4 separate regions of the Homo sapiens genome follow, and all the other regions are linked to region 2. The links come from fine-mapping of genetic effects on gene expression. A gene starts in region 2. Each other region holds a variant in brackets. All regions are shown on one strand. Distances are from middle to middle.

Region 1 (8,099 bases), 25 kb after region 2:
TGAGCCACTATGCCAGGCCCGACTGTATAGCTTTTATTTTTATTTTTAGAGGAAAGGTCTCACTCTCTCCCAGGATGGAGTGCAGTGGCCCATTGCAGCTCACTGCAGCCTCGATCTCCTGGCTCAAGCTATCCTGCCACTCAGTCTCCTAGGTAGCTGAGGCTACAGGCACACGCCGCCATACCCCATTATTTTTTTATTTTTATTTTTTGTTCGTTTTTGTGGAGATGGGGTCTCGTGCTGCCTGGGCTCATTTTCATTTCTCTTGGGCGTGCATAGAAACCAAATTGCTGAGGCATAACCTGGGTATATGTTTAGCTTTCCCCAAAGCAGCCATACATTTAAAAACATTCCTACCAGGCCAGGCGAGGTGGCTCATGCCTGTAATCCCAGCACTTTGGGAGGCTGAGGCTAGTGGATCACCTGAGGTCAGGAGTTTGAGACCAACCTGGCCGACATGGTGAAAACCTGTCTCTACTAAAAAATACAAAAATTAGCCAGGCATGGTGGCGGTCACCTGTGATCCTAGCTACTCAGGAGGCTAAGGCATGAGATCGCTTGAACCTGGGAGGTGGAGGTTGCAGTGAGCCGAGATCAAGCCACTGCACTCCAGCCTGTGTGACAGAGCGAGACTTTGTCTCAAAAAAAGATAAAAAAAGAAAATGGAAACATTCCTACCAACAGTTTATGTTTCCTTTGCTCCACATCCTTCCCAACATTTGGTGTTGCCAAGCGTCTTCATTGTAGCCAGCCAATGAGTGGGTAGTGGTATCTTGTGATTTTTAAAATTTTGTTTATTTTATAGAGAAGAGATCTCATCCTATCACCCAGGCTGAAGTTCAGTGATGTCATCATAGCTCACTGCAGCCTGGAACTCCTGGGCTCAAGGGATCCTCCTTCATTGGCCTCCCAAGTAGCTGTAACTACAGGCATGTGCCACCGTGCCTGGGTATTCTTGTGGTTTTGATTTGCATTTCCCTGATTACTAATGGTCTTGAGCATTTTTTTCCCCTGTGGTTATTGCATGCCATCATTGTAAGATGTACTCTGATTTTGAGGTAGGAGGCAGAACTTTATTCCAGACCAGATTAAAGACTGGCTGAAGGCCGGGCGCGGTGGCTCACGCCTGTAATCCTAACACTTTGGGAGGCCGAAAAGGCGAGCAGATCAGCAGATCGAGACCATCCTGGCTAACACGGTGAAACCTCATCTCTACTAAAAGTACAGAAAATTAGCCGGGTGTGGTGGCTGGTGCCTGTAGTCTCAGCTACTCGGGAGGCTGAGGCAGGAGAATCACTTGAACCCAGGAGGCGGAGGTTGCAATGAGCTGAGATCGCACCACTGCACTCCAGCCTGGGCGACAGAGGGAGACTCTGTCTCAAAAAAAAAAAAAAAAAAAAAAAGCTGGCTGAAACTGGGAAGAGGCAAAAGCACCGCTCCATGAGACATGCCCACCAGTGCCATCTCTGTTTACCATTGCCATGGCAACACCCACAAGTTACTGCCGCTTCCCATGATAACCACCCCAAAGTTAACGACCTTTTTCTAAAACTTTCTGAATAACTTGCACCTTAATTTGTACATAATTAAAAGTAGTTGGCCGGGTATGGTGGCTCACGCCTGTAATCCCAGCACTTTGGGAGGTCGAGGCGGGCAGATCATGAGATAAGGAGATCGAGACCATCCTGGCTAACACAGTGAAACACCGTCTCTACTAAAAATACAGAAATTAGCCAGGCGTGGTAGCGGGCACTTGTAATCCCAGCTACTCGGGAGGCTGAGGTACGAGAATCGCTTGAACCCAGGAGGCAGAGGTTGCAGTGAGCTGAGGTTGCGCCATTGCACTCCAGCCTGGGCGACATACTGAGGCTCTGTCTCAAAAAAAAGAAAAGAAACGAAAAAAAAACAGAGAGAGAGCCGGGCGCGGTGGCTCATGCCTGTAGTCCCAGCACTTTGGGAGGCCAAGGCGGGCGGATCATGAGGTCAGGAGAGATTGAGACCATCCTGGCTAACACAGTGAAACCCTGTCTCTACTAAAAATACCAAAAAAAAAAAAAAAAAGCCGGGCGTGGTGGCAGGCACCCTTATCCCAGCTACTCTGGAGGCTGAGACAGGAGAATGGCGTGAGCCCAGGAGGCGGAGCTTGCAGTGAGCCGAGATCGCGCCACTGCACTCCAGCCTTGGGCAACAGAGCAAGACTCCGTCTCAAAAAAAAAAAAAAAAAAAAAAGAAAAGAAAAAAGAAAAAAAGAAAGAGAGGAGGCTTAGAGTCAGAGAAGTCAATGTGGTGCTGGGATCTGAGAAAAAGAACCTGGAAGATGGTCAGTTGCTGGCTTTGAAGATGGAGGAAGACACTAAACCAAGGGATGCAGGACAAGCTGGAAAAGGCAAGGACATAGATTTTCCCTGGAGCTTCCCAGAGGAAGCCAACATCTGGATTTTCGTCCCATAAGACTCATCTCAGATTTGTGAGCTCCAGGACTGTAAGGTAATAAATGCGTGTGGTTGTAAGCCATGACGTGTGTGGGGACCTGTGTCAGCAGCAACCGGAAACTACTGCATGGACGATCTAGTTTATTCTGCCTGGTTTCTTGTGCCTCACGTTATGTTTTTGAGGTCATGCATGTTGTTGCATGTACCAGTAGTTCATTCCTTTCGTGAATAGTATTTTATATGATGTTTTCGTGTCCATTTACCATTTGAAGGACATTTGGATTATTTCCAGTGTTTGCTTATTATGACTCATGCTGCTGTGACATTTGTGTACAAGTCTCGGTGTGGACACACGTTTCCATTTTTTTGGCATAGATATGTAGGAGTGAAAGTATTGGGCTGTATGGTAAGTTTATATTCAAATGTTGGAGAAATTATCAAACTTTTCCGAACAGTTTTACATTTCCACTAGGAATGTATAAAGGTTCCAGTTCTCCACATCCTCCCCAACGCTTAGTATTATTGTTCCAGCCGTTCGAGGGGGTCTGCAGTGGTACTTTCTTGTGGGCGAGTTTGGCATTTCCCTGATGATTAATGGTGTTGAGCATCTTATGTGCTCCTAAGTCATTTGTGTTAGCTTCTTTAAAAAAATGTTTATGCAGCTTTTTTGCCTATTTTTTTTAACTTCTTTTTTTGAGACAGAGTCTCGCTTATGTCACCTAGACTGGATGGAATGCAATTATGTGATCTCAGCTCACTGCAACCTCTGCCTCCCGAGTTCAAGCAATTCTCCTGCCTCAGCCTCCCGAGTAGCTGGGATTACAGATGCATGCTACCATTCCTGGATAATTTTGTATTTTTAGTAGAGACGGGGTTTCACCATATTGGCCAGGCTGGTCTTGAACTCCTGACCTTGTGATCCACCCGCCTTGGCCTCTCAAAGTGCTGGGATTACAGGCGTGAGCCATTGCATCCGGCCCTATTTTATTTTATTTTATTTATTTTGGAGAGACAGGGTTTTGCCATGTTGCCCAGGCTGGTCTTGAACTCCTGGGCTCAAGCAATCTTCCTACCTCAGCCTCCCAAAGTGCTGGGATTACAGGTGCATGCCACCACACCCAGGTATCTTTTATGTTTCTTAATGGCATCTTTTGAAGATCAAATATTATAATTCTGATGAAATCTAATGTACCATTTTCTTTCATGGATTATGGTTTTGGTGTCATATCTAAGAAATGTCTTAACCTAAGGTCCTAAGTCAAATAATACTTTTTATGTTTCTTCTAGAAGATTTTTTTTTTTTTTGAGATGGAGTCTTGCTCTGTTGCCCAGACTGGAGTGCAGTGGTGCAATCTTGGCTCACTGCAAGCTCCGCCTCCCAGGTTCACCCCCCCATTCTTCTGCCTCAGCCTCCTGAGTAGCTGGGAGTACAGGTGCCCACCACCACACCTGGTTAATTTTTTGTATTTTTAGTAGAAGCGGGGTTTCACTGTGTTAGCCAGGATGGTCTTGATCTCCTGACCTCGTGATCCGCCTGTCTCAGCCTCCCAAAGTGCTGGGATTACAGG[C/T]GTGAGCCACTGCGCCTAGCCTCTTCTAGAAGATTTTTAGCTCTTATATTTAGGTCTGTGATTCACTTTGAATTAATTTTTGTGTATGGTATGAGATAAGGAGATAAGGTTTAAATCCTTTTTTTTTTTTTTTTGAGATGGAGTCTCGCTCTGTCACCAGGCTGAAGTGCAATGGCGTGATCTTGGCTCACTGCAGCCTCCACCTCTTGGGTTCAAGCGATTCTCCTGCCTTAGCCTCCCAAGTAGTGGGTACTACAGGCACGCACCACCACGCCCAGCTAATTTTTGTATTTTTAGTAGAGACGGGGTTTCACCATGTTGGCCAGGATGGTCTTGATCTCTTGACGTCGTGATCCACCCGCCTCTGCCTCCCCATGGGCTGGGATTACAGGCCTGAGCCACCACAACCAGTCCTAAATTCTTTTTTTATATAGATAATCAGTTTTTCCAATACCATTTGTTGAAAATATATTGTTTTCCCATAAAATTGACTTAGGAGCGAGGTGTGGTGGTTCAGCTACTTGGGAGGCTGAAGCAGGAGGATCACCTAAGCCCAGGAGGTGGAGACTGTAGTGAGCTGTGATCGCACCAGTGCACTCCAGCCTGGGTAACAGAGTGAGACCTCATCTCTAAATAAATAAATAAATAAACTTAGCACTTCTGTTAAAAAAATCAATCGATGATAATTGTGAGGGTTTTTTTTAATTCTCTATTCTGTTCCCTTGATCTATATGCTTTTCCTTATACTAATTCTGTCCTGTCTTCATTATTCTAGCTTTGTAGTAAGTTTTGAGATCACGTAGTGTAAGTCCTCCAGCTTTGTTCTTTTTCTTTTTTTTTTTTTTTGAGACGGAGTCTCGCTCTGTCGCCCAGGCTAGAGTGCAGTGGCACAATCTTGGCTCACTGCAAGCTCCGCCTCCCGGGTTCACGCCATTCTCCTGCCTCAGCCTCCTGAGTACCTGGGACTACAGGCGCCTGCCACCACGCCCGGCTAATTTTTGTTTTTAGTAGAAACAGGTTTCACCGTGTTAGCCAGGATGGTCTCGATCTCCTGACCTCGTGATCCGCCCACCTCGGCCTCCCAAAGTGCTGGGATTACAGTCATGAGCCACCGCGCCTGGCCCCAGCTTTGCTCTTTTTCAAAATTGTTTTGACTATTTTGTGTAGGGTCCAGCCCTACAGGGCCTGTTGGTTTTTCTTTTTGTGTGTGGAGACGAGAGATCGTAGAAATAAAGACGCAAGACAAAGAGATAGAAGAAAAGACAGCTGGGCCCTGGGGACCACTACCACCAAGACATGGAGACCGGTAGTGGCCCTGAATGCCTGGCAGCACCGTTATTTATTGTTTACAAGGCAAGAGGGCAGGGTAAGGAGTGTGGGTTGTCTCCAATGATAGGTAAGGTCACGCGAGTCACGTGTCCATGGGCCAGGGGGCCCTTCCCTATTTGGTAGCCAAGGTGGAGAGAGAGAGAGGACAGGTAACGTCATTATTTCTTTTATGTATTTCTTGGAGAGATCAAATACTTTAATACTTTCACTAACTTTGCTACTGCTATCTAGAAGGCGGAGCCAGGTGTACAGGGCGGAACATGAAAGTGGACTAGGAGCGTGACCGCTGAAGCACAGCATCACAGAGACGTTTAGGCCTCCGGATGGCTGCGGGCGGGCCTGACTGATGTCAGGCCTTCCACAAGAGGTGGTGGAGCAGAGTCTTCTCTAACTCCTTTTCCTGGTCCGCTGAGTAACAGGTGCCTTCCCAGGCTCTGGCGTTACCGCTAGACCAAGGAGTCCTCTAGAGGCCCTGTCCGGGCGTGACAGAGGCTCACCCTCTTGTCTTCTGGTCACTTCTCACCGTGTCCCTTCAGCTCCTATCTCTGTATGGCCTGGTTTTTCCTAGGTTATACTTGTAGAACAAAGATTATTATAATATTGGATTAAAGAGTAATGCTATAAGCTAATAATTAGTAATATTCATATATAATCATATATATAATCTATTTCTAGTATAGCTTCTCGTCGTATATGTTTCCTTTATTATACTGGAACAGCTTGTTTCTTTGGTCTCTTGCCTTGGCACCTGGGTGGCTTGCCGCCCACAATTTTGATCATTTGCATATCTATACAGATTTCAGTATTAGCTTGTCAATTTCCACCACCAACAAAAACACCTGCTGAAGCCAGGTGCGGTGGCTCACGCCTATAATCCTAGCACTTTGGGAGGCCAAGGTGGGTGGCTCACTTGAGCTCAGGAGTTCAAGACCAGCCTGGCAAACATGGTGAAACTCTGTCTCTACTAAAAATGCAAAAAATTAGCTGGGTGTGGTGTCGCGTGCCTGTAGTCCCAGCTACTTAGGAGACTGAGGCAGGAGAATCGCTTGAACCCAGGAGGCAAGATCGCACCAACTGCACTCCAGCCTGGGCAACAGAGTGAGACTCTGTGTCAAAAAACAAACAAACAAATAAAAAACACCTGCTGAGATTTTGCCAGAGATTACATTGGATCCACAGATCAATTTGGGGGAGAATTGCTATCTTAACAATGTTGAGTTGTTTTTATTTTTGAGACAGGGTCTCGCTCTGTCGCCCAGGCTGGAGTGCAGTGGCGCAATCTCGGCTCACCACAACCTCCGCCTCCCAGGTTCAAGCGATTCTGCTGCATCAGCCTCCTGAGTAGCTGGGACTACAGGTGCCCGCCACAACACCCGGCTAATTTTTTTTTTTTTTTTTTTTTTTTTTAGTAGAGATGGGTTTTCACCGTGTTAGCCAGGGTGGTTTTGATCTCCTCACCTGGTGATCCACCTGCCTTGGCCTCCCAAAGTGCTGGGATTACAGGTGTGAGCCACCGCGCCCAGCCATAATTTTTGTATTTTTAGTAGTGACGGGGTTTCACCATATTGGCCAGACTGGTCTCAAACTGACCTTGTGATCTGCCCGCCTCGGCCTCCCAAAGTGCTGGGATTACAGGTGACAGCCACCGCATCTGGCCCTTGTTTTTTGTTTTGTTTTGTTTTGTTTTGTTTTTGAGACGAAGTCTCACTCTGTCGCCAGGCTGGAGTGCAGTGGTCCAATCTCGGCACACTGCAACTTCCACCTCCTGGGTTCAGGTGATTCTCCTGCCTCAGCCTCCCGAGTAGGTGAGACTACAGGTGCGCACCACCACACCCAACTAATTTTTTTTTTTTTTTGAGATGGAGTCTCGCTCTGTCACCCAGGCTTGAGAGCAGTGGCGCAATCTTGGCTCACTGCAAACTCCACCTCCTGAGTTCACGCCGTTCTCCTGCCTCAGCCTCCCCAGTATCTGGGACTACAGGCACCTGCCACCACGCCCGACTAATTTTTTTGTATTTTTAGTAGAGATGAGGTTTCACCATGTGGGCCGGGCTGGTCTCGAGCTCCTGACCTCGTGATCCGCCTGCCTTGGCCTCCCAAAGTGCTGAGATTACAGGCGTGAGCCACTGCACCCAGCCACAATGTTGAATGTTTTTTTTCTTTTTGAGACAGAGTCTTGCTCTATCGTCCAGGCTGGAGTGCAGTGACACAATCTTGGTTCACTGCAAGCTCTGCCTCCTGGGTTCACGCCATTCTCCCACCTCAGCCTCCTGAGTAGCTGGGATTACAGACGCCTGCCACCATGCCCGGCTAATTTTGTTTTTGTATTTTTAGTAGAGACGCGGTTTCACCATGTTAGCCAGGATGGTCTCGATCTCCTGACCTCATGATCCACCCACCTCGGCTTCCCAAAGTGCTGGGATTACAGGTGTGAGTCACCGCGTCCAGCCTGAATTTTTAAACCAATTTTAACCAAAAATATGACATGTCTGTCAACTTATTTAGGTCTTCTCCAACTTTTATCAGCAGGGTCATTATTTTATTTTATTTTATTTTGAGATGGAGTTTCGCTCTTGTTGCCCAGGCTGGAGTGCGAAGGCGCGATCTCAGCTCACTGCACCCTCCACTCGCGGGTTCAAGTGATTCTCCTGCCTCAGCCTCCCAAGTAGCTGGGACTACAGTCGTGCATCACCATGCCCAGCTAATTTTTGTGTTTTTAGTAGAGAAAAATTTTTTTTTAGAGACTGGGTCTCACCGTATTGTCCTGGCT
Region 2 (8,099 bases):
CCCAGTCCCTGCCTCTGATGCTGCTGCTGCTGGGACCCTGCTGGCAGAGCTGGTGGCTGAACTGGGGCAGCACCTCCCTCTCCTGCCCCAGGCCTGGGCCGGGACTCAGCTGGCACTGGAATGAGGAACTATTGGCTTTCAGAAGCCAGGAGACCTTAGGGGGCTGAGGAAGAGAGCTGGACCTGCCCCCAGGCGCCCTGATCCCAGCCCAGGGCAGTCTCCTCCCTCACCTAGCCTGGGACATGAGGCAGCTCAGGTGTGGCCTTAGGGGCTACCCCCAGGGAAGGCCACCAACCATAGCGGGCCACGGTGTGGGCTGGCCTCTGGGTGTGAAGGGCTCCAGGATCTGGGCTGCAGAGGCGGGACTGTGCGAAACAGAACCCCCAGCTCCACAGCCAGGCCAGCCCCAGGCTCCTCCCCAGACAGACATCCCCGGGGGTGGGGCAAACCTGCAGTACCACCAGGGGCAGCCTGTCCCACCATCCCCGGCACCACTGGGCCTGGGGCCAGTCACTGTCACAGGTTCATGAATCTCACAGGGCAGGGTGGATCCACTGGGGGGGTGCGGGGTGCCAGTGTTCAGGGCCAGACGGGAGGGGCCCAGCCAATCCCTTCACACGCTTGGTCTTCAGAGAGAAGGCTTCTGAGCCAGGAGGGCCACTGTGTCAGGGCCTGGCTTGAGGCCACACCTGTGGCTGGGGGAGCCCAGAACAGTGCAGGGTCCTTCCCTGGTAGGCAGAGAAAGGCAGGGGTCCTTACAATCCAGGGGTATGGGAAGAAGCAGGCCCTGTGTCAAGGGATGTGAAACCACGGAAAGGAAGAAGGTGGAGGAACCTCGACCAGAAAGAGGGAAGCTAGGGCAGCTGCCTCCCCGGGGCCCCAGAGCCTGAGCACCCCCCACCAGCCAAGGCTCTGACCCACCCTCCCCATCGTGTAATTAGTCAGAGACCCAGCCCCACCCCACCCACAGCCCCACCCCAAACACAAACAGCCACTACCCCTGAGGGAGGGAGGGGCTGTGGCCAGTCCCAGCCCTACTGAATCTCCCACCCCCAGAGAACCTGGATCTGCCTCAGAGAAGGGAGGTCAAGGCTGGGGGGCCACTTGCTGGCCACTGGGTGAATTCTGAGCAGCTCACCACCTCATCCCCAAACCGTGTCCAAGGCAGGCTCTGGGCACAAGAGGTTCCCCGCCAACTTCCAAGGAGGGCGGCCAGGCTGCAGCCAGAGGGACGGAGGCATGAGCTGAGTGAGAACTCCCAGCTCAGGGGAAGGCAGCCCTCGTGGCAGAGGCCTGGCATCCAAGTGCCTGCCTAGCTCAGAGAAGGCACAATATGAGGGGCCGGAAGACACAGCCTCTCCCAGCCAGTGCACCCCTGCCCACGCCCGCGTCCCAGGGGGACCATCAGCTGTGGCTGGCACAGGGTGAGGCAGGGGGCAGGACACGGTGAGCACGGACGACGTCCTGGGATGGGAGGAGGACTGTGCCATATGGGCCCTCCCCACCACCTTCCAATCCAATCTCTTCTGCTCCACTTCCCTGGGCCGGGTCCAAGGCTCTGGGCTTTCTGCACTTGGGGCCAGCTGCCGGCTCCTCCTCCCCGATGTGGTCCCCATGCAGGCCGCCGGGCACACACCCCGGGCGCACACACAGCATGGACCCAGAGCGCCAGGTAGCCACAGCCCTGGCCACACAGCATCGCAGATGACTCCTCACATAGACCTATCTCTGGCCTCAGTCTCCCCACCTGCAGGATGGGCTCACAGGCGCCATATCCAGAGGGGGTCGTAGGCAAGGACTGGCTGTCGGAGGGGCTTGGAGGGAGGCTGGTCCGTTAGTCAGGAGCTGAATAGGGAGTCCGTTGGGGCAGGAGGGCCCCCTGAGGGAAACCCCAGTGCCCTCCCTAGCAGCCTAGCCTCGCTCCTGCCTGCTCCTCCCTGGCACGCACAGGTCACTGGCACAGGGTGTGTCCCTGAACTTGGGCCTGGAGGGTACCTCAGAGGCTCTTCAGACCACCATTGAGACTTCTCGGGGCGAGGGGGTCCCTGGGTGGGGCGAGGGGGTCCCTGGGTGGGCCCAGAGCTCCTCCTGTTCCATGGTCTCCCCCAGAGGGGCTTGGGCCCACTGCAGGCTCAGCAGGGCCTGCTGGGGCCAACCTTGGGGCTTTCTCCAACCCAAAGGTGACGCATCTTCTCCCCGCCCAGTCTGGGCAGCTGCAGTAGAAAGTGGCAGAGCTGCCCGGACTTGCCCGTCCTCCTCCTGGGGCCCTCAACCCACGTCCCGGAAGTGGATCCTTCTCCCACGCTGCAGCCTCCCGCTTCGGGTGACTGGACACGGCTGGATGATCCAAAATAATTCTTTCTTGGCAGGCAGCCGGTGGGGGAGGGGGACTCACATTCCAAACCCTTGTTTTTCTCAGTAACTTCCCTCCTCTACTGGGGCAAGGAACCCCTGGCCAGACCTCAGGCCTCCCAGACCCCCCGGGACAGAGGTGGGCCCCCCATAGGTACCGTGGGAGGACTCAGATGTGCCAGGCCCACCTGCTTGCTTCTCAGTCGGCTCTGGGGATTTCTATGCAACATGCAAAAAGCTGACTCGCCACAAACCTATGCCTGCTGGCCCTGCCCTCCGGGAGACCCTCACCTCTGGACAGGAAAGGGAGGGCTCCTCCCACCAGCTGTTCAGCTGTTCCGTGCCAGGGTCATCTGGGCATGGGGCAGGCTGAGAGCCCCCACTTCCCGGCAGCCTCGCTCTCCCACCCGCAAAGGGCTCCTGAGGAAGCTCAACTTTAAAGCCTCACAGGCTGCGCCGAACCTCCAAGCAAGGGCCGAAGTCAGACATTAAGTGGGGAGGGCGGGGGGGTCCAGGGAAGGTGGGGCACAGGGAGCCCTCCAGGCCGCCGGGATCTGCCGGGTTTGGGGCCCACCCTCACCCTCACCCTCACCCTCACCCTCACCCTCACCCTCACCCTCACCCCCTGTCCTGACTCTGCCACAGCCCACAGTGGGCAGACGGACCCCTTTCTTCCTTTCCCAGGGAGCTTCGGGAAGAGAAATCAAGGGCCTGGCAGGAAGCCCCAGGGCGTCCGGGCTCTGAGACCCCCAGATGACAGGGGGAGGCGGGCTCCCCAGATCTGCCGAATAGCCCGACCAGGGGCGCTGGCAGGGCAGGGGCTTCCTGCAGGAGCAGGGTGCGGAGGGGCAGGGTCAGCAGGGGACAGGCAGGGCTCGCGCCCCCGCTTCTGAGACTTTCTGTGTCTCGGGGTGTCCACCCAGACGCCACTCTGGGAACCGCGAGGAGGCCCAGGCAGTGGGGTCTCGCCAGGTGCGGGTGCTCTCCGCCCTGGTCCCCCCGCGCCAAGCAGGCCCCAGGGGGTGCGGGGACGGCCCCCGGGAGCTCGGGCAAATCCAGGCTCCTGTGCCGCTGAGCCTGGGGCCGGCCCGGAGCGCCCGCACCGCGAGACCATCTCCGCTCGGCGCACGGAGCTCGGCGGCTGAAGAGTGAGAGGCAGGCGCGGAGGAGGGATCCGACGCGGCTCCGGAGGGACGCGCAGCCCCCGCCGCCGGGCCCGTCCCCCGAGTCAACACCGGGAAGGGAGTGGGGCGGCAGCGGCCCGGGCCTCGCCGGATGGACCGACGGACGGGGCCCAGGCCCCGGGAGCCCTCCGCGGAGCCGCAGCCGCCGCAGGTCCCCGGGCCCCAGCGCGGCAGGCCCGGGCGGAGCGGCGCTGACGGCGAAGCCCCCCCCACGCCCAGCGAGACGTCCCCCGCAGCCCAGTCCCCCGAGCTCGGTACCTGCACGTCCGCCGCCAAGGCTCGATGGCGCCCGGGCCGCGCTCGGCGCTGCGCTCTGGCCCGCGCTGCTGCCATGGAGACGGGGCCTTTGTGTGGCCGAGGAGGGGCCGGAGCGCGCGGGAGCTGCCGGCCCCGCCCCCGACGAGGGAGAGGAGGGGAGGGCGGGGAGAACAGGAGAAGGGGGGAGAGGGAGAGGGAAAGCGGAGGGGGAGAAGGAGGGGGAGGGGGAGGGGGGAGAGGGGGAGGGGGGAGAGGGGGAGGGGGAAGAGGGGGAGGGGGAGAGGGGGAGGGGGAAGAGGGGGAGGGGGAGGGGAGGGGGAGCAGGAGCGGGGAGGAGAGGGCAGAAGAGAACCGGAGAGGAGGGGAGGGGACGGGAGGGGAGGGGCTGGGCCTGCGCTCCCCGCGCCCCCCACTTCTCCCCTGCCCAGCGGCCACAGCATTGTCTGGTAGGTTCAGGCACCCCAGTTCAGACCCAGGTTCAGCCAGGGCAGCACCCTGCCCACCATGCCGCCGTCCAGGAAGCACGAGCGCCCACAGAGGCCCCATGGCCTGAGCACCCCCACAGGAACCCCGCAGGTCTGAGGGGAGGCCATGGCTTGGTACCAGGGGAGGGCATTATGAGTGCACTCTCGCCTGGCCAGAGGAACGTGAGGGTCCCTGCCAGTCTTGAGATGTGTGGGCACCAGACTCTCACTCCCAGACTGGAAGCATACCAGTCGCTCCCCTGCGGCCTTCAGGGGTGGGGGCTGCTGGGCTTTGGCCCTTTCCCAGGGGTCTCAGGCCCTCAACCTCCCAGGGTAAACTGGGACCTGGAGATGGCCTCCCAGCACATCCCTGGCCTCCAGCAGCACCTTGGGATGCTGCACCCGGGACCCCACCTGGTCCTTCAGGGCCAGGAGGTGGGCGGGCCGAGACCTCTTTCTGGGGGTTCTGGTTTCTGGGACAGAGCTGGCCCCACTTCTGGCATCCCAGGTCCCAAGTCCTGGCCTCAGTGCTCCTAGTGTCCCCTGGGCTTGAGAAGAGGTGGTGAACCGTCTGCAGGGCCAGACCTTGGAGCACGCCTCCACTGCCCTCCCGGAACTGGATGTGCTGAGCAGGAGACAGAAGCATTCCCCAAGCTCTTGCCCCCACCCTGGGTCACCCCTCCCTGGGGCCCGCCTTCCACCCAGACCTGCCCCGTCCTTGCAGCTGGTCAGCTTCCTCCTGTCCCCAGCCAGGCATCCCCTCCTCCTCTGCTTCCCCCACCCGGGATCCGCCCCGCCACATCCTGACAAACTCCCCCAGCCTGACTTAGTTCTTTCAGTCTCTGCCTTCTCCCACCCTCAAGCAGCCAGGCCTTGTTCCTGTCCAAAATCTTCCCTTGGGCCTTGAACCACAATCCACATCACGGCAACCCTACCCTTCACTGCAGAGGACCCCAAAATTACCAGGTTCTGACAAGGTTGCCAACTTTTTATCAAAAAAGGAAAAGACAAGGTCCAGTCACAAAAGGACATTTTAATACCAAAACTGTGGGAAGGCCACTGTTCTAGACTAAAAGGGAGTCTTTAAATAGCCAGCAGGAAGCTTGAGGGTGAGCAGCTGTCCTTCCTGTCCCTGAGCAGGCCCCCTGTGTGCACCCTCAGCCCCGAGCCCCACTCCAGACCTGCTCCCAGCCCTTCCCACCCTCTAGGTTCTGTGGTCCCTGTCCTTCGGGAGGCCTGTGACCACAGCAGTCCTCACCCTCGCCAACTAAGTTCTGCCCAGCAAGCCCTCTTGCCTGCGGGGGCTGGCACTCTGGCCAGGGGTAGAGCTGTCTGGACCTTCCTGCCTCTTCACTGACTGCCCCTGGCCTGGAGTGCGTGGGGCGGGGAGGGCCATGGCCTAGCCCTGGACAGAGGCTCAGCCAACTCAGAGCGGCCCTGACACTGGGGGGGCCACAAGAGGCATCCGGACAGATGGAGCTGGCAGGTCTCCACGCCCAGCCCCCACCCATCCACCCCAGGCCACATTCCACCCCAGGCCTCTTCTGCACAGGTGGGGACAGGCCCTGAGGAAGAGGGGCTGGGACACTACCCCCCACCTTAGCCTTAGCTTCTGCCCAGGGCAATGCTGGCCACCCAGCCCGGTTCCCCCCTCAAGTTCCCCCTTCACACGCCACTATGTGGCCTCACCAGAGCCCTCCAGGGAAATCTGCTTGTGCATTTCTGGATACACAGTGGCCAGGGTCCCTGGGGGCTCCTCAGAGACCAGCCTGAAGCCCCTCCCCTGCAGCCATGTGGGTCTGCAGCCCTCTGTGCTGTGCGGCAGCCCTCAGAAAGCCAAGTGAGGCGAGACTGTGCTGTGGGGAAGCACATGCTGCCACGGTCCTTGGGGTGCGCTCCCCAAAGTGGGGTCACAGTTGTGAGAGAGGTGGGTTGTCTTCCCAAGCTGCCCCGACACCTTGAAGTGGTGGTCCTCAGGGGGCTGGTCACCAGCATAAGGCTTTTGCAGAGGGCCCTGGTGGAGGGCAGCTGATGGCAGGGCCTGTACTGGCCCCCCAGGCCCCATCTTATGGAGGTCAGCATTCAAGCTGCCCACACAAGAGGTGCCAGCATCTCTGCAGACCCTCTAGAGACCAAGCCCTCAGTGGGGAGGCTGGTCCCCCTGTGCTACAGTCAGGAGGCCCAAGCTGCATTTGGGGCCAGGACCTTTCTCACCCTCGGGTCCCCGGCTTGTCCCTGCCACAGAACAGGTTTGCCACCTCGGCCTCTATGTGTTCTGTTTCATGTGGTCACATCCTTGGACCCTGCACCAGACATCTGGGGCTTAACAGCTCCCCTTGGTCACCCTCCCGGCTGCCTCCGCGTCTTGTCTGTAGAATGGGAACAGGGACAGGCTGTCCTGGGCTGCAGTTGGGCTGGACAAGTTGACATGTACCAAGTTCTGAGAACTACCTGGCGCCCGGACACCTGACCCCGCTGTCCTTGTGGCTCAGTCACATCCTGCACTGAAGTGGCTGGCAGTGCTCGCTCTCCACCACCTGGCTGGAGGTCTGAGAGCACCAATGAGAACACAAACAGTACGTTGCGCTGAATGAAGGCTACATTCCTCGGACTGAATGGGGGCCTCAGAAGAAAAAGAAAAGTCCCGGCCGGGCGCGGTGGCTCATGCCTGTAATCCTAGCACGTTGGGAGGCCGAGGCGGGCGGATTACGAGGTCAGGAGATCGAGACCATCCTGGCTAACATGGTGAAACCCTGTCTCTACTACAAATACAAAAAATTAACCAAGCGCAGTGGTGGGTGCCTGTAGTCCCAGCTACTCGGGAGGCTGAGGCAGGAGAATGGCGTGAACCCGGGAGGCAGAGCTTGCAGTGAGCCGAGATCATGCCACTGCACTCCAGCCTGGGCAACAGAGCGAGACTCCATTTCAAAAAGAAAAAAAAAGAAAAAGTCCCTCCCCCAGCCCTGTGTCCCCTGGCCAGCACCCGCCCGGCCTCACAGGGTACAAAGCCCAGTCTCCATGAGTGGCCCTCCCAGCACCCTGTCGGGCATCTGCATGGCTGGCTCGCTCAGATGAGGAGTCTGAGGGTCTGAGTGGTCAGGGGACCTGCTCCCGGGCACACAGTGCGTGATGCTGAGCAGGGCTTGGCTGTCCGGAGCCCTGACAGTACCGTCACTGTGTGCTGTGCAGGGTCAACACCGTACCTCACCGGCCTCAGTGCCTGCAGGTGTCACGGGGGGAGCATACAACCCAGAGGTGGCTCTTAGGGACGTTCACCCCTTACCAAGGAAAGGGAGACATGCAGGCTCCAGCCAGAGGCAGGGTCAGGCCGAAGTCCAGAGCCCCTTGGGCTGCATGTGGGGGATGGACGGACACACTTGGACAACAGGAGCCCTGTCCACCTCCCAGAAGGGACGCACGGAGCTGGTGCCTGGTGGGGGCTCCAGGACTGGGAGCCAGGAAGGTGCTGTGGCTCTCCGAGAGCCAGGCTGAGCCAGCTCTCCTAGCAGAGGTGCTGGGCTGCACACAGCCCCCTGCCCAACCCCTACCTCCCAACAAACCACAGCCCCAAGCAGGTGGGTGTCCAGAGGAGCACCAGGGGTGGTGAGCAGAGCTCTTCACACTGCAAAGTGGTCTCTCCCTTTCTCAAGTTGATGACTATATGCAAAATAGCCTCCCATCCCCAGACAAGACGGGGGCTGTGTCAGGAGAGGGTCCCTCCTGTCCTGGGCAGCCTGTTGGGCTGAGGGAAGCATCACACACAGCGCAGGGGGGTCGGGGGCCAACAGATGGGCACCGGGAGGGGCAGACGGTAGACGCACCCACATCAGCAAGGGCTCCC
Region 3 (8,099 bases), 42 kb after region 2:
AGTTTCCCCCCAGTCAGTGCCCCCCAAGTCAGTGCCCCCTCCAGTCAGTTCCCCCCCAGTCAGTGCCCCCCTCCAGTCAGTTCCCCCCAGTCAGTGCATCCTCTAGTCAGTTCCCCCCAGTCAGTGAACCCTCCAGTCAGTGACCCACCCAGTCAGTGCCCCCTCCAGTCAGTTCCCCCCCAGTCAGTGCCCCCCTCCAGTCAGTTCCCCCCAGTCAGTGCATCCTCTAGTCAGTTCCCCCCAGTCAGTGAACCCTCCAGTCAGTGACCCACCCAGTCAGTGCCCCCTCCAGTCAGTTCCCCCAGTCAGTTGCCCCCCAGTCAGTGCCCCCCAAGTCAGTCAGTTCCCCCTCCAGTCAGTTCCCCCAGTCAGTCAGTGCCCCCCAGTCAGTGCCCCCCCCAAGTCAGTCACTGTCCCCTCCAGTCAGTGCCCCTCCAGTAAGTTCTCCCCAGTCAGTGCATCCCCTAGTCAGTTCCCCCCAGTCAGTGCCCCCTTCAGTGTCCCCCAGTCAGTTCCCCTCAGTCAGTGCCCCCCCAGTCAGTTCCCCCCGCAATCAGTTCCCCCGTCAGTGCCCCCTCCAGTCAGTGCCCCCCAAATCAGTGCCCCCAGTCAGTGCCCACTCCAGTCAGTTCCCCTCCAGTAAGTGCCCCCCAAGTCAGTTTCCTCCCAAGTCAGGGCCCCCTCCAGTCAGTTCCCTCCCAGTCAGTCAGTGCCCCCCCAGTCAGTGCCCTCCTTCTGTTCCCCCACCCTACACCAGTCAGTGCTTCCTGCACCAGTCAGTGTCCCCTGCTAGCTAGTCATTGCACCTCACCCATCAGTCCCCACCCCACCCATCAGTGCCCCCCACCGTCAGTCAGTGCCCCTTGCAAGTCATGCTCCTCCTGTCGGTCAGTGCCTCCGCATCTGTCAGTCCGCGCACTGGTCAGTGCCTCCACTGTTGGTCAGTGCTCCCCCACCGTCAGTCCACTCTGCTCCCCATCAGTGTCCCCCAGTCAGAGTCCCGCATCCCTGTCCCCCGTCAGCCAGTGCCCCCCCAGTCAATTATTTTCTTTCTGTCATGTCCCCACTTCCCATCAGTGCCTGCACCCCCACCCGTACCCGTCAGTCACTGACCGCATAATCCCTCCCCTGCCAGTGCCCTTCCTTGTCAGTCCAAGCGCTCTGTGACCCCTTCTGTCAGCAATGTCCCCACCTGTCATTGATCTTCTCTGTCAGTGCCCCCCATCAGTGCCAGTGCCTCTGTCAGTGAGCCCCACTGTCAGTAAGTTTCCCTCATAAGTGTCTCCCTCATCCTGCCTGTTGTGGCCCTTCCGCTCTTTGCTATCGGCCTCTGTGTTAGTGCCTGTCAGATCCTCCCCATCAGTTCTCCCCTGTTGTCAGTTCCTGTCCCCTTTCATGCTACCTCCTTCATCCCTTATCTGTTAGGGACCCATTAGTACCCTGCCCTGCTGTTAGTGACCCCACCTGTCAGTGTCTCCCCACTGCTTCTCTCCTGCCTGTCAGTGGGAGAACTTTCAGTGCCCGCTGTCATCACCCCTCTTGTCCAATCACTGATTCCCCTTTCCATTATTTCCTAACCCTTTCCAACACTACTCGTCTTTTCCTGTCGCGCTCCCCATCACGGCTTGAGATATCACCAGTCATCTAACCTCACCTTACCCCGCACTGCCCTGTTGCTTCCATCCCCATCATCTCTTCCTTCAGCCTGTCACCTTCCCCCATGCACCGTACTGTCCCCCGACCTGCCACTCTGTGTACTCGCAGCTTCCCTACCTGCTTTGTCCACTCTCTTGTTACTGACTCCTCCCAATTTGCTGCTCATTCCCTGACCTGTCAGCACCAGCTCCCCCAAGTCTGTCACTTCCATTTAGTCCCTGCCTTTCACTGCAGCCCCCTCTTTGTCACTGTACCCACTGATTTTGTTCTAGACCCTTCTCCTGTGTCTTGTTCTTTCATCCACCCTTCCCTCATGGCCTCTCTCTGCCCTGCTCTTGGCTTCTCCTTGCCCCTGCAGTTGCCGACACTGTTCACTGTTCACTGAAAGAGGCTCTTCACCTCTTTTTGATGTCCCTTTTTCTGGTTTATCTTCCCTTTGTTTTTATTTTTTACTTTAAAATGTTGTGGGTACACAATAGGTGTATATATCTCTCCCCTTTGACTTTTCTAACTCACTTCAGTTAATCTTTGGAATGTGAGAGGCAGCTAGCTTTGAGACAAATTGGGGGACAGAGTCTCCCATGCTGAGAGGACAGCACATGCAAAGGCCCTGAAGTGGGAAATTTTGGGTGTGATATCCTCCAGGAACCTAGATAAGACTGATGTGCTTATGGTAAGGGAGAGAGAGGCAGGAGCCTGGGCTGGAAAGTTGGTTTTCTCATTAAGCCGTTCCTTGCAGGTGTTAGTAGGGAGTTGGACCTTCAGTCTGAGTTGTAGGAGAAACCTGGCCTGGAGATTGAGTTGGAGAGTGCCATGATCATATGGACATTGGCACGTGGACAGCAGGTGGGGGTGAGATGAAGTGTTGGGAGCTGGGTGTAGTGATTGTAATGGTTTAGAACTTGGTGGTGGGTTTAGGGAGATATTTTGGAGGTAGAGCTGTTGGGACTTGTTGGTAGATGAGAAGAGAGGTGTGAGAGAATGAATGGACTCAGGGTAATTTCTGGGCTGCTTTTATCCTCCCAGCCCCATCAACCCTTCTAGGCTTTCTGATGGAACAAATGGGTGGATAGTAGCACTGTTTATTGAAATAGGGAAGCTGAATTAGGGTGGTGTCAGGGCTGGGGGTGTTACTACAGTTTGGAAGTAGAAAGCAAGGCTTTCTCTTGGCTGAAAGTAGGGGAAGTCTGAGAAGTCCGAGGGTCACTAGGGAGAAGGTATCTTACAGGAGGGTCTGGAACCCAGAGGAGAGGCCAAGCCGCAGGTATACAACTGTCATCATGGGGGCAAGGTATAAAGCCTTGGGGATGGCTATTTATTTAAAAGCACATGGGCTGGGTGCGGTGGTTCACGCCTGTAATCCCAGCACTTTGGGAGGCTGAGGTGGGAGCATCACTTAAGGCCAGGGCAGCCTGGGGACATGACAAAACCCTATCTCTACAAAAACAAAAAGCAGGGCCGGGCGCAGTGGCTCACGCCTGTAATCCCAGCACTTTGGGATGCTGAGGCGGGCGGATCACCTGAGGTCAGGAGTTCGAGACCAGCTTGGCCAACATAGTGAAACTCCATCTCTACTGAAAATACAAAAAAAACTAGCCAGGCATGGTGGTGGGCGCCTGTAATCCCAGCTACTCAGGAGGCTGGGGCAGGAGAATCGCTTGAACCTGGGAGGTGGAGGTTGCAGTGTGCCGAGATTGTGCCATTGCACTCTAGCCTGGGCGACAAGAGTGAGACTTCCTCTCAAAAAAAAAAAAAAAAAAAAAAGTTGGGCATGGTGGTGTGCGCCTATAGTCCCAGCTGCTCGGACACTGAGGTGGCAGGATCACCTGAGCCTGGGGAGGTCAAGGCTGCAGTGAGCTGTGATCACTCCATTGCACTCCAGCCTGGGCGACAGCGTGAGACCCTGTCTCAAAAAAAAAAAAAAAAAAAAACGGGCTGGACGTGGTGACTCGTGCCTATAATCCCAGCACTTTGGGAGGCTGAGGCGGGAGGATCACTTGAGGCCAGGAGTTCTAGACCAGCCTGAGCAACATAGTGAGGCCCCATCTCTGCCAAAAATAAATAAAAGCACACCCACAAAAGCAGAATGTGGCCAGGCATAGTGGCTCATGCCTGTAATCCCAGCAGTTTGGGAGGCTGAGGCAGGTGGATCACCTGAGGTCAGGAATTCGAGACCAGCCTGGCCAACATGGTGAAACCCCGTCTTTACTAAAAATACAAAAAATTAGCCAGGCGTGGTGGCATGCGCCTGTAATCCCAGCTGAGGCAGGAGAATTGCTTGAACCCGGGAAGCGGAGGTTGCAGTGAGCCAAGATCACAACATTGCATTCCATTCTGGGCAACAAGAGTGAAACTCCATCTTAAAAAAAAAAAAAACAGAAAAAAGCAGCTGGGTGTGGTGGCCCACGCCTGTAATCAGTTTGGGAGGCCGAGGCGGGTGGATCACCTGAGGTCAGGAGTTCGAGACCAGCCTGAACAACATGGTGAAACTCCGTCTCTACTAAAAATACAAAAATTAGCCAGGCGTGGTGGTGCATGCTTGTAATCCCAGCTATTCGGGAGCCTGAGGCAGGAGAATGCCTTGAACCCAGGTGGTGGAGGTTGCACTGAGCCAAGATTGTGCCACTGCACTCCAGCCTAGGCAACAGAGCAAGACTCTGTCTCAAAAAGAAAAAAAAAGAAACCATTTTATTTGCTCATTCATTAAAAGCAGCTCCTTATCTGTTTTATCCTGAGATTGCAGCAATTCAGTCACATCTTCAGGCTCTACTTCTAGTTCTGTTACTTATTTTTTGAGACGAAGTTTCCCTCTTGTTGCCCTGGCTGGAGTGCAGTGGTGCAATCTTGGCTCACTGCAACCTCTGCCTCCCGAGTTCAAGCGATTCTCCTGCCTCAGCCTCCTGAGTAGCGGGGATTACAGGCGCCCACCACCATGCCTGGCTAATTTTTGCATTTTCTATAAAGATGGGATTTCACCATGTTGGCCAGGCTGGTCTCGAACTCCTGACTTCAGGTGATCTGCCTGCCTTGGCCTCCCAAAGTTGCTGGGATTACAGGCATGAACCACTGCGACCGGCCTGAAATGTATTTCTGAAATAATAAGAAAATTAGGCTGGGCGCGGTGGCTCACGCCTGTAATCCCAGCACTTTGGGAGGCCGAGACAGGCAGATCA[C/T]GAGGTCAGGAGATCGAGACCATCCTGGCTAACACGGTGAAACCCCGTCTCTACTAAAAATTCAAAAAATTAGCCGGGTGTGGTGGTGGGCGCCTGTAGTCTCAGCTACTTGGGAGGCTGAGGCAAGAGAATGGCATGAACCCAGGAGGCGCAACTTGCAGTGAGCCGAGATTGCCCCACTGCACTCCAGCCTGGGCGACAGAGCAAGACTCCGTCTCAAAAAAAAAAAAAAAATTACTCCTTGATCCATGGGCTGCAGTATGGAGTATGTTAGCAGGCATGACAACATTAGTCTCCTTGTACATCTTAATCAGAGCTCTTGGGTGACTAGATGCATGGTCAATGAGCAGTAATATTTTGAAAGGAATCTTTTTTTTCTGAGCAGTAGGTCTCAACAGTGTTTTTTTTTTTTTTTTTTTTTTTTTTTTTTTGAGACAGAGTTTCACTCTTGTTGCCCAGGCTGGAGTGCAATGGCGCAATCTTGGCTCACCGCAACCTAAGCCTCCCAGGTTCAAGTGATTCTCCTGCCTCAGCCTCCCTAGTGGCTGGGATTACAGGCATGTGCCATTGCGCCCAGCTAATTTTGTATTTTTAGTAGAGATGGTGTTTCACCATGTTGGCCAGGCTGGTCTCAAACTCCTGACCTCAAGTGATCCGCCCGCCTTGGCCTCCCAAAGTGCTGGGATTACAGGAGTGAGCCACCGCGCTCGGCCTGATTTAGCATAATTCTTAAGGGTCCTAGGATTTTCAGAATGATAAATGAGCATTCAATTTAAAAGTCACCAGCTGCATTAGCGAGTCAGCCTGTGCACTCAAGCTTTGAAGCCAGGCGTTGACTTACCCTGTCTAGCTATGAAAATCCTAGATGGCACCTTCTTCCAATAGAAGACTGTTTCATCTGTATTGAAAAATCTGTTGTTTGCCATAGCCTCCTTCATCAATTGTCCTAGCTGGATCTTCCAGATCTAGCGACAACTTCTATATCAGCATTTGCTGTTTTGTTTTTGTTTTTTGTTTTTTGTTTTGAAATGGAGTCTCCCTCTGTCACCCAGGCTGGAGTGCAGTGGTGCCATCTCAGCTCACCGCAACCTCTGGTTCCCGTGTTCAAGTGATTCTCCTGCCTCAGCCTCTTGAGTAGCTGGGATTACAGGTAGCCGCCGCCATACCCAGCTAATTTTTTTTTTTGAAACGGAGTCTTGCTCTGTCACCCAGTCTGGAGTGCAGTGGCGCGATCTCGGCTCACTGCAAGCTCTGCCTCCCAGGTTCATGCCATTCTCCTGCCTCAGCCTCCCCAGCAGCTGGGACTACAGGTGCACACCACCATGCCCAGCTAATTTTTTTGTATTTTTTAGTAGAGACGGGGTTTCATCGTGTTAGCCAGGATGGTCTCCATCTCCTGACCTCATGATCCGCCTGCCTCGGCCTCCCAAAGTGCTGGGATTACAGGCGTGAGCCACCGCACCCGGCCACACCCAGCTAATTTTTGTATTTTTTAGTAGAGACGGGGTTTCACCATGTTGGCCAGGCTGGTCTTGAACTCCTGACCTCAAGTGATCCTTCCGCCTCGGCCTCCCAAAGTGCTGGGATTACAGGCAAGAGCCATCGCGCCCGGCCGGCATTTGCTGTTTCACCTTGCACTTTAGTATGTTATGGAGGTGGCTTCTTAAACCTCATGAAACAACCTCCGCTAGCTTCCAGTTTTTCTTCTGCAGCTTCGTCATCTCTGTCATCCTTTGTAGAACTGAAAAGAGTGAGGGCCTTACTGTAGACTATTTAAGTCTGGTTTCGTCTTCTCTCCAAACCATTAAAACTTTCTGCAGGCATTGGGTGCGGTGTCTGACCCCTGTAATCCCAGCACTTTGTGAGGCTGAGGCAGGTGGATCACGAGGTCAGGAGGAGACCATCCTGGCCAACATGGTGAAACCCCATCTCTACTAAAAATACAAAAATTTGCTGGGTATGGTGGTGCGTGCCTGTAGTCCCAGCTACTCGGGAGGCTGAAGCACAAGAATTGCTTGAACCAAGGAGGTGGAAGTTGCAGTGAGCCAAGATCACGCCACTGCACTCCAGCCTGGTGACAGAGCGAGACTCTGTCTCAAAACAAAAACAAAAACAAAAAAAAAAAACACACAAAACAACAACAACGTAACTTTCTGCAGGCTAGGCACGGTTGCGCACACCTCTAATCCCAGCACTTTGGGAGGCTGAGTGGGGAGGATCGCTTGAGCTCGGGAGTTTGAGACCAACCTGAGTAATACAGTGAAACCTCATCGCTACAAAATAAAAGTTTAGCTGAATGTGGTGGTGCATGCCTATAGTCCCAGCTACTGGGGAGGCTGAGGTAGGAGGATGGCTTGAATCTGGGACGTCAGAGCTGCAGTGAGCTGTGATGGTGCCACTACATTCCAGCCTGGGCAACAGAGTAAGACCTGCCTCCAAACAGAAAGCAGCCTTCTCCGTGTCAGCAATAAAGCTGCTTTGCTTTATTATTATTTATGTCTTCACTGGAGTAGCAGTTTTAATTTCCCTCAAGAACCTTTCTTTGGCATTCACAACTTGGCAAACTGGTGCAGGAGGGCTAGCTTTTGGCCTGTCGGCTTTTGACATGCCTTCTTCACTAAGCTTAAGCATTTCTAGCTTTTGATCGAAATGAGAGACATGTGACTCTTCCTTTCCTACAGGATTAATTGACCTAACGTTATTACGTTATTACTGTTGTGTCTCAGGGAGTAGGGAGCCCTGAGGAGAGGGGGAGAGACTCAGGGAAATGGCCGGTCAGAACTTACGCAGCGTTTATTAAGTTTGCTATCCTATATGGGCACGGTTTGTAGTTTCCCAAAACAATTAAAATAGTAACATCAAACATCACCGATAACAGGTCACCATAACAGATAAAATAATAATGAAAGAGTTTGAAATATTGTGAGAATTACCAGAATGCAACACAGAGACACGAAGTAAGCACATGCTGTTGGAAAAATGGCACCCCTCGACGTGCTTGACGCAAGGTTGCTACCAGCCTTTAATTTGTAGAAAGCACATTACCTGCGAAGCACAATGAAGGGAAGCACGTTAGACAAAGTACGCCTGTGTTGTTTTCCATTTCACAGATGAGGAAATGGAAATAAACAGCAAGTAGATGATAGAGGCAAGATTTGTACCCCAGGTAGTGTGACTCAAAAGCCTCTCCCTTTTTTTTTTTTTTTGTTAAGGGAAAGGCTAACTTTTAAAAATATTTTTAAAAAATTTTAATAGATTCCCTAGAAGAAT
Region 4 (8,099 bases), 32 kb before region 2:
AGCCAGCACGGTGCTGGCCACCGGACCCATGCGGACCGCGGCGAAGGAACGGGTCTCAGTCCCAGCCGCTCCGGCCCCTTTTGCATGACCAAGCCCCGTGCCTCAGTTTCCCCATTGGAAGCCGGCATCCGGCTGGGGGCCTGGCGCGGGCCCGGGGATGGCCCCTCTCCTCGCTCGGGCTGGGTTGGGGCGAGGACACGGGCAGCCTCCCCGAGGGCCCCCGCCCGGGAGCGCCTTTCACTGGGCCCGGCCGAGGCGGGCCGAGGTTTTGTGCAGAGTTAATGGAGCTTCAGCTAAAGGAGGAGGAGGCCGGAGCGCAGCCCCGGAGCTGTGGGAACCGCGGCCGCGGCCGCCGGGGGAGGGGAGCGGCCTTTGTCTGCGCCGCGGCCGGGCGGGGCGGGAGTCGGGTTCCCATGGCGACCGGCCCCGCCCCTGCGCCTCCCCGTGGACTGGGCGGCTCCGTTCTCGCCCCTAGGGTGGGGGACATGGAGGTGGGGAGGTGTCAGGCTTCCCCCAGGCGTCCGCCCGCAATCCTCGCGGCCTCGCTGCAGGCCCCGGCCGCTCAGCAGGTCAGGCGGGCGTGTGGGGTGGGGGTGGGGGCGGGGGGCGGTGGAAACGGGCCCCTCTCATCACTGAGCTGACCTGCCCCGGGAACCCCCTGCCTGCCCAGGCATTAGAGGTCCCGCCCATGTGCCTACTGGGGACAGTGTGGGGTCGTGGCACTGCAAGGGAGTGATCACTGAGGAGTTTCGGGTGGCGTCAGGGCCTGGAGGCCATCTTCCAGGAGAGGCACCTTCAGAGCTCGGCGGGGGCAAGGGAAGCCCCCCTGGAGGGAGCCGCCGGTGGAGGACAGTCCCAGGCCCAGAGGGGAAGCGGCAGGGGAGCCAGGAAGGGCCGGTGGCAGGGCAGGAGTGAGAAGCCCTGGGCCAGAGGCGCCTCTCCTACCCAGCTGATTCGCTGTGGCCCCTGAATACAGCAGGCCACCCCTTCTCCGTGCTCATGCCCCCACCCCACCCCCGCTGGTCCTGGCCACCCCTCCTCACTGGAGCTGTCACTGTGACAGCTCCTCTCTGGTCCTGCTGGTCCCTCCCAGCTGGCCTCTTCCTGCAGTCAGTGAACTTCCTAAAAGGCAAATCTGGCCTTGCTCACCGGGAGACCAGGCGATGGTGGTCGCGGAGCTGATTTAGCAGGGGACTTGTCCTGCCTGTAAGAAGCAAGCAGGATGTAGCCTTGGGCTGTTAAGCTACCCGCCACCTCTCCTCCCACCACTCTGGGAGGAAAATGGGACTTGGAAAGCACCAGGAAGGACAGGCCACCCCTCGTCTGTCGCCAGCTGACCACTCCAGCCCACCGCATGCACCCCAGCAGCTATGCCCAGCTTCTACCCGGTGCCTGCCCCCACCCAGATGCTGGACTGCTGGGCCTGCAGCCTCTCCCCAGCCCCAAGTTTCATGTGTGTGGGGTCTCACTGACCCTTCCCTTCTTTCCTGACTGCCCAGTGGGACAGGGAAGAGGTGGACTGCAGGGGTCTAGTACGGAAGCCAGGCCTCCAGGTTCCCAGCTCCCTACTTGAGACCTCCCGCTCAGCACTTAAGCCTTCGGTCCACCCCCTTGCTCTGATCTCCTGACCAGCCATGTCTCTGGGTAAGGGGGGAACCCAATGTCATTTCAGGGATCCTTGGAGCAGGGGATGTCAGTTGGCCTTGTACCCCTTTCTCTTGTGGGGGAGAGATGGCCACCCGTTTTTCATCGTGGCTTGAATGGAGCTGTGTGGGCGGCAAGCCACCCAGGCACCGAGGCAAGAGAGAGGACACGAGCTGTTGCAGTATAATAAAATATAAAACAAGAATAGTTATACCAGATATAGATCTTAGATATGATTATATATGAATATCATTAATCATTAGTTTGTAGCAATTACTTTTTATTCCAATATTATAATAATCCTTGCTCAATAATCATAGCCTAGGAAAAACCAGGCCATACAGAGATAGGAGCTGAGGGGACATAGTGAGGTGTGACCAGAAGACAAGAGTGGGAGCCTTCTGTTATGCCCGGACAGGGCCACCAGAGGGTTCCTTGGTCTAGCGGTGACGCCAGCGTCTGGGAAGACGCCCGTTACCAGGCGGGCCGTGGTCCAGCCGTAGCAAAAGGTGTCAAGGAACAACACCCACTACTTAGCAGACCGGGAAAGAGGGGGGGGGGTCTCCCTTTCCCCAGGGGAGTTTAGAGAAGACTCTGCTCCTCCACCTCTTGTGGAGGGCCTGACATCAGTCAGGCTTGCCCGCAGTTATCCAGAGGCCTAAACGTCTCCCTGTGATGCTGTGCTTCAGCGGTCACACTCCTAGTCCACTTTCATGTTCCATCCTGTACACCTGGCTCTGCCTTCTAGATAGCAGTAGTAAATTAGTGACAATACTAATAGTCCCTGATATGCAGAAATAATGGCGTAAGCTGTCTTTCTCTCTGTCTCCTCTCTCTCTCTGCCTCGGCTGCCAGGCAGGGAAGGGACTCCTGTCCAGTGGACACATGACCCACGTGACCTTACCTATCATTGGAGATGACTCACATTCTTTACCCTGCCCCTTCTGCCTTGTATCCAATAAATAACAGCGCAGCCCGACATTCGGGGCCACTACCGGTCTCCATGCATTGGTAGTAGTGGTCTCCTGGGCCCAGCTGCCTTTTCTCTTATCTCTTTGTCTTCTGTCTTTATTTCTACACTCTCTCGTCGCCGCACACGGAGAGACCCACTGACCCTGTGGGGCTGGTCCCTACAGAGCTGCCCCAGTCCAAAGGGGACTCGATCAATGGAGGCCTTGCCCATCAAGAGACCCCAGCCATGACGTGCCCAGGTGGGGAGACAGGCTGGGGCTGCCTGAGAATGGATCCTCGTGAGTGGGTTAGCAGTCCAGACCAGCAGAACCTCAGGATGTGTGCCTGGATCCAGCCACATTTGAAGCTGGGCCTTCACTTTGTGTCTGGAGCACCGAATGCCCTCTGCCTGGGCTGTCTGTATTCTTGGCACACAGGGGAGGCTCTGAGCCCTGCCCGTCCTGGTTGCTGCTGTTCCTAGCGCTCAGGACAGTGCATGCGTGGTGTGCAGCGGGCATTTGGTAAGAATGTGTTGCACGAAAGAAGCCACCAGATGGCACCAGAAGCAGTCCCACCTCCCACCCCCCCCACCTCCCCTCAGCACCTCTCCCAGCCCCCTCCACCTCCCCCCAGCACCCCTCCCAGCCCCCTCCACCTCCCCCAGTACCCCTCCCAGCCCCTTCCACCTCCCCCAGCACCCCTCCCAGCCCCCTCCACTTCCCCCCAGCACCCCTCCCAGCCCCCTCCACCTCCCCCCAGCACCCCTCCCAGCCCCCTCCACCTCCCCCAGTACCCCTCCCAGCCCCTTCCACCTCCCCCAGCACCCCTCCCAGCCCCCTCCACCTCCCCACAGCTCCCCTCCCAGCAGGACCCACAGAGCCCAGGGAAGGGGTGGTGGACAGGGGCACTGCAGCCCCAGGAGGAACACTCAGCCAACCCGCAGAGTGAAAAAGACGCTGTATTTGATTTACAATGAACAAGATTTACAAAAAGGGGTGGGGTGGTCTTGGAACTGCTCCCAGTCCCCCCGGACTGGGTGGGGCTCTAGGGCAGCCTGTCTGACAGACCAGGACCCCAGGATGTCTGGGCCCCGACGTAGGACTTGACCTACGTCTCACTTGACCTTTGACGTGGGGCCCAGCAGCCGTGAGTCCACCCAGAGTGCCGGCACCCTTGGGGAGGCCGGTGAGGTCAGGAAGGCATCGTACCGCTTTTTCTCCTCCTCCCATCTCGTGGTGGACAGACAGACATAGGATCTGGGAACTTGCCCTGGGGGCCACAGGCCCTCAGATCCCCCAGGGGCCCAACCTAGGGCATGGAGGCGGCTGCTGGTGCGTGGGCGGAGGCGGAGGCCAGCTGCCCCCAGCGTGGCAGCGTAAGGCACATTTTCAAATCACTGGAGACTCGACAGTGAACACCCGATGCTGGTTCTGCGGCCGGAGGGAGCTGGGGCTGGGGCTGGTGCTGGTGCGGTGCCCGGCGGTATTGCTCAGAGGAAGATGCTACAGTCTAGACGCTGGGCGGGTTCCGGCTGCACCCACTCCGGCTTGGGGCGCGTTCCAGGGGAGGGTGGGGGCCTCAGCCACAGCCACTCGGCCTCCTCCCCTGAGGGGCTCTCAGGTACCTCAGGTACCTATGTCCCAAGGCAGCACTGGAGATTGTAGGTCAGAGGTCAGTGACCTTGTTCTCCAGTGCAGCGGCAATCTGCTGCAGGCGGAAGGCCAGCTGCATCTTCTGGGCGGCAGGATCCTCCTCCAAGGCATTGATGATCTGAGGGAGGGTCGCATCAGAGCACACCGGGGGACCGCCCAGCACCCCACC[T/C]GCCCCCGCCCCCGGGGGCCTGACCCTACCTCGTCATAGTACTTCTGCGTGTATTGGTAGAGCTGGTGGAGTGCCACGAGGGTGTTCAAGGAGTCCGTGTGCGCCTGGGGGGTGACGGGACAGTCAGGGTGGAAAAGGGGCTGTGGGAGCCCCAGGGCTGGCAGGAGTAGTACGGGACGCCCAGGACGAGGCCTCCCCGGGGAAGCAGCTGGGGCCTTGGGCACAGCTGGCACTTGGGGCCCCCCATGTGGCACAGCCTCAGACAGACACCCACGCAGGCAGAGTTGTGCACATCCAACCATCTCAGTGTCTCCCTGTGTGACGCACGGCTGTGGATGGACCCACAGGGACGGGTGCTGTGAGCAGGGCTGTGGGTGGAGCCGCAGGGAGGGGGCGCTGTGGGCACGGCCGTGGGTGCAGCCGCAGGGAGGGGGCGCTGTGGACACGGCCGTGGATGGAGCCGCAGGGAGGGGGCGCTGTGGGCACGGCCGAGGGTGCAGCCGCAGGGAGGGGGCGCTGTGGGCACGGCCGTGGGTGCAGCCGCAGGGAGGGGGCGCTGTGGGCAGGGCCTGGCTCCAAGCAGGAGCAGCTCATACTCCCCACACGCAGCTGTGGCTCACTTCACATGGCCGAGCCCACCTCGAGGTCCCGCCCCACCCTCTCTCCCCCTCAGCACCACATTACCCCTGCCCTGCAGCTCAGGGCCAGGCTCAGCATGGGGTAGTGGGAGCGGGGAGGGCTGTGGGTGCGTCCCTGGTGGTCTCCTTACCCGGGAAATCTCTGCCAGGTGTGTGTTCATGTCCTGGTCGCTGACCTGCACCATCTGCCGGATCCCCTTGTAGTAACTGCAGGGGTGGGAGCATCATACAGTGTGGGCGGCAGGGACCACAAAGGGGGTGGTGGGGGAAACCAAGGCCTGAACCTCCCCGCAGGGGGTCGAGGGTGGGCATGGGGGCCTGGCCTGGAGGGCAGGCAGACTTACTCCTCCACCATCTTCTTGTAGGTGGAGATCTCCTTGGCGTACAGCAGCTTGTTGCTGGGAGAATCCTGTTGGGGACAAAACCCAGTGATGCCTGGCCAAGGGGGCCAGGCTGGGGCTGCTCAGAGTACCCCTGGGTAGCTTCCCCTGCCCCGAACTCCTGACACTTTCATCAAGAAAACTATGGGCCGGGCGCAGTGGCTCAGGCCTGTAATCCTAGCACTTTGGGAGGCTGAGGCAGGCAGATCACCTGAGGTCAGGGGTTCGAGACCAGCCTGCCCAACATGGTGAAACCCCGTCTCTACTAAAAATACTAGCCGTGCGTTGTGGCACATGCCTGTAGTCCCAGCTACTCAGGAGGCAGCGGCGGGAAAATCGCTTGAACCTAGAAGGCGGAGGTTGCAGTGAGCAGAGATCGCGCCACTGCACTCCAGCCTGGGCGACAGAGAGAGACTCCATCTCAAAAAAAAAAAAAGAAAACTACTTATTTTGTGATCTGTAGTAAAACTCAGTTTCTCTGCTCGTGTGCTGTGGTGAGAGGTCTCAGGAGGAGAGAGGGCAAGGGCTCTCGGGATCTCCCAGGCTCTGCCGGGCCCCTGTGCCCCCAGCCTCCGCCACCCGTCACCTCCTACATCAAGGGCTCCAGCCCAAGATATTCAAATCCACACCCCAGACAAGGTCCCAACTCACAAGATGCCTCCTGGGGACAGACCCAGGCCTCCCTGCCCCAGACCTGCCCCCACCCCACTCACGCGGCTCAGCTTATGCTCCGTGCGCGTGCAGGCATCCATGAAGGTCTGCGCGATGACTGACAGCGAGGCGTCCACCACCTCGTGGACATGCACGTCAAAGATGAAGTGGGGGTTCTTGAGGATGTTCACCCAGAACCGGAGCGGTAAGCTGAGGCAGAGCAGCAGGGAATGAGAGCCGGGGCTGGGCCGCGGGGTGGGTGTGGAGCCTCCCAAGTGAGAGGCGGAGCCGGGGCTGGGCCGCGGGGTGGGTGTGGAGCCTCACCTGTTCGTCTTCCAGATGTGGATGGTGTCTTCATCCTGGATGTTGTGCTTCTCTGCCTGCTCGTCCAGGAAGTCGAAGAAGTACTTGACTGCAGGTGGCACCGCGTGCCCAGGCGCCAGCACGCTCTGGAAGAAGTTGTCCACAAACTGCTGCAGTGTGCCCTGTGGGGGGGAGGGTCTCAGCGTGACGCCGTGGGCGCGGCTCCTGGGGGGGAGGGTCTCAGCGTGGCGGCCTGGTGCCGCCCACACACCCATGGGGGCCCACCTTGACTGAGAGCAGCCGCGTCAGGTAGATCTCGGTGATGGCCTTCGTCCGCTCCTTCTCTTTCACGCTGCCTCTCTTGGACTTGCCCTCGTCCACCTCGTCGGTCGGCCGCACCAGGTGCCACACCCGGTTCTCCTCCTCCAGGAGGGCATGGCCTGTGGGGAGCGGGCACTGAGGGACCCCTACCCAGGTCTGGGGGCCTGGGTCCCACAGGGAGCAGTGGTGGCAGGGTGGGCAGGGGTGCATGTGTCCAGGGCAGACATGGTCCACGCTGACCACCAGGGGCTGGAAGGAAACGGGCAACAGGGAGGGACTCACGCTCCCCAGGCAGGTCCTGCTGGCTGTCCTCCGGCTGCTGGGAGACCCCCACCTTGGACAGGATGAGGGTGGCTCCATCCCGGACCTGGGGAACACGGCGGTGAGGGTGGGCTGTGCCCCCAGGGTGCCCAGTTCTCGCCCGCCCCGGCCTACACGCTCACATTGTAGTGCATAAGGGTGTTGACGCGCTTCCACCGGCCCTCCCGCTGTGACGTCAGGTCCAGGTCCGACAGGATCTGCGCTGTGGAGCCCGGACGCCACTCTGTGGGAAGAGACAGCCCAGCTTGGGCCCCAGCCACCCAGGTTCCTCCCACTGCCCACCACTCCCATATGAGAAAGCTGGCCAGGCAGGATACCGCCCCAGGACACAGGCCAGGCACATGGGCGCCTGTGTGCAGACGGGCAGGGGCCGGCACTCACCCAGGACCACGCTGTCTGGCCTGGGCCAGCAGGAGCAGGGCTGCCCACGGTACACCTGGTCAATGATCTTCTCCTTGACCTGGGAGATGGTGTCACAGTTGAGGACCTTCACCGGGATGGCGTCCACTCCCTCGTCCTGCACGATCACGCTCACCGTCTGCCGAGACATCCGGGATGAAGCCCAGTGGGAGGCCCTGCTCTTACCTGCACCATGCAGGAGCCACTCCCTGCCCCGCCAGCTTTGCCCACCACAGCGGCACCCTTGGGCAGCAGGCCCCCGCCAGCCCGGCTCCGAGCCCCCGAGGCTTCCCAGATGACCACACTCTGCCCTTCCCCTGCCTGCTCCGGCTCAGCAGGACAGAAAGACGGGGACGGCTCAGAACCGCTCACTCAGGCTGTCACGCAAGCTCATGGAAGCACATGTACAGACACAGAATACACACGTCTCACACATGCACAGGCTCCTGCCACACCCACTGGTCATGTATGCACAGAACCCTGGACACACCTGGTGTGCCAGGCCCTTGTATGGCCTCCAGGAGGTGGGGGCGCCCGGGAAGAGCTGATGCGGGGCCCGCACACTTAGAGCCTCCAGAGCCCACAGCCACCAGCACCCAGGCCCCTCCCTGAGGCCGAGTTAGAGCAGGCTGTAACTCGAATCCACAGAGGAGGTGGACGGCCTCTGGCC

The links.
Region 1: its variant is fine-mapped to the expression of PLXNB2 in whole blood (TOPMed, PIP above 0.99).
Region 3: its variant is fine-mapped to the expression of PLXNB2 in whole blood (TOPMed, PIP above 0.99).
Region 4: its variant is fine-mapped to the expression of PLXNB2 in whole blood (INTERVAL, PIP above 0.99).

Annotation. Positions count from the first base shown.
Region 1 is chr22:50,328,509-50,336,607 of GRCh38, forward strand. It overlaps a transcript of PPP6R2 not described here. Among named protein-coding and RNA genes, the nearest start is that of DENND6B, 5.5 kb to the left of the region's middle. RefSeq lists a silencer at 3,786-3,975 and an enhancer at 5,584-5,713. The variant C/T (reference allele first, on the strand shown) is at 4,001.
Region 2 is chr22:50,303,759-50,311,857 of GRCh38, forward strand. It overlaps PLXNB2 (plexin B2), which reads right to left and starts at 3,888. Exons shown (of 37, transcript NM_012401.4): 1 at 3,795-3,888. DENND6B (DENN domain containing 6B) reads right to left here. Exons shown (of 20, transcript NM_001001794.4): 20 at 5,272-8,099. RefSeq lists enhancers at 1,542-2,741, 2,131-2,500 and silencers at 3,049-3,199, 3,720-3,789, 3,800-3,999, 4,160-4,209, 4,910-4,959.
Region 3 is chr22:50,345,798-50,353,896 of GRCh38, forward strand. The region is part of intron 1 of PPP6R2 (protein phosphatase 6 regulatory subunit 2); the gene reads left to right. Among named protein-coding and RNA genes, the nearest start is that of PPP6R2, 6.5 kb to the left of the region's middle. The variant C/T (reference allele first, on the strand shown) is at 4,830.
Region 4 is chr22:50,271,444-50,279,542 of GRCh38, forward strand. PLXNB2 (plexin B2) reads right to left here. Exons shown (of 37, transcript NM_012401.4): 28 at 7,412-7,568; 29 at 7,153-7,253; 30 at 6,992-7,076; 31 at 6,674-6,828; 32 at 6,410-6,570; 33 at 6,148-6,295; 34 at 5,399-5,463; 35 at 5,186-5,261; 36 at 4,446-4,520; 37 at 3,536-4,365. The coding sequence ends at 4,261. Among named protein-coding and RNA genes, the nearest start is that of MAPK11, 5.1 kb to the left of the region's middle. RefSeq lists enhancers at 234-773, 774-1,314 and silencers at 277-626, 4,862-4,931. The variant T/C (reference allele first, on the strand shown) is at 4,417.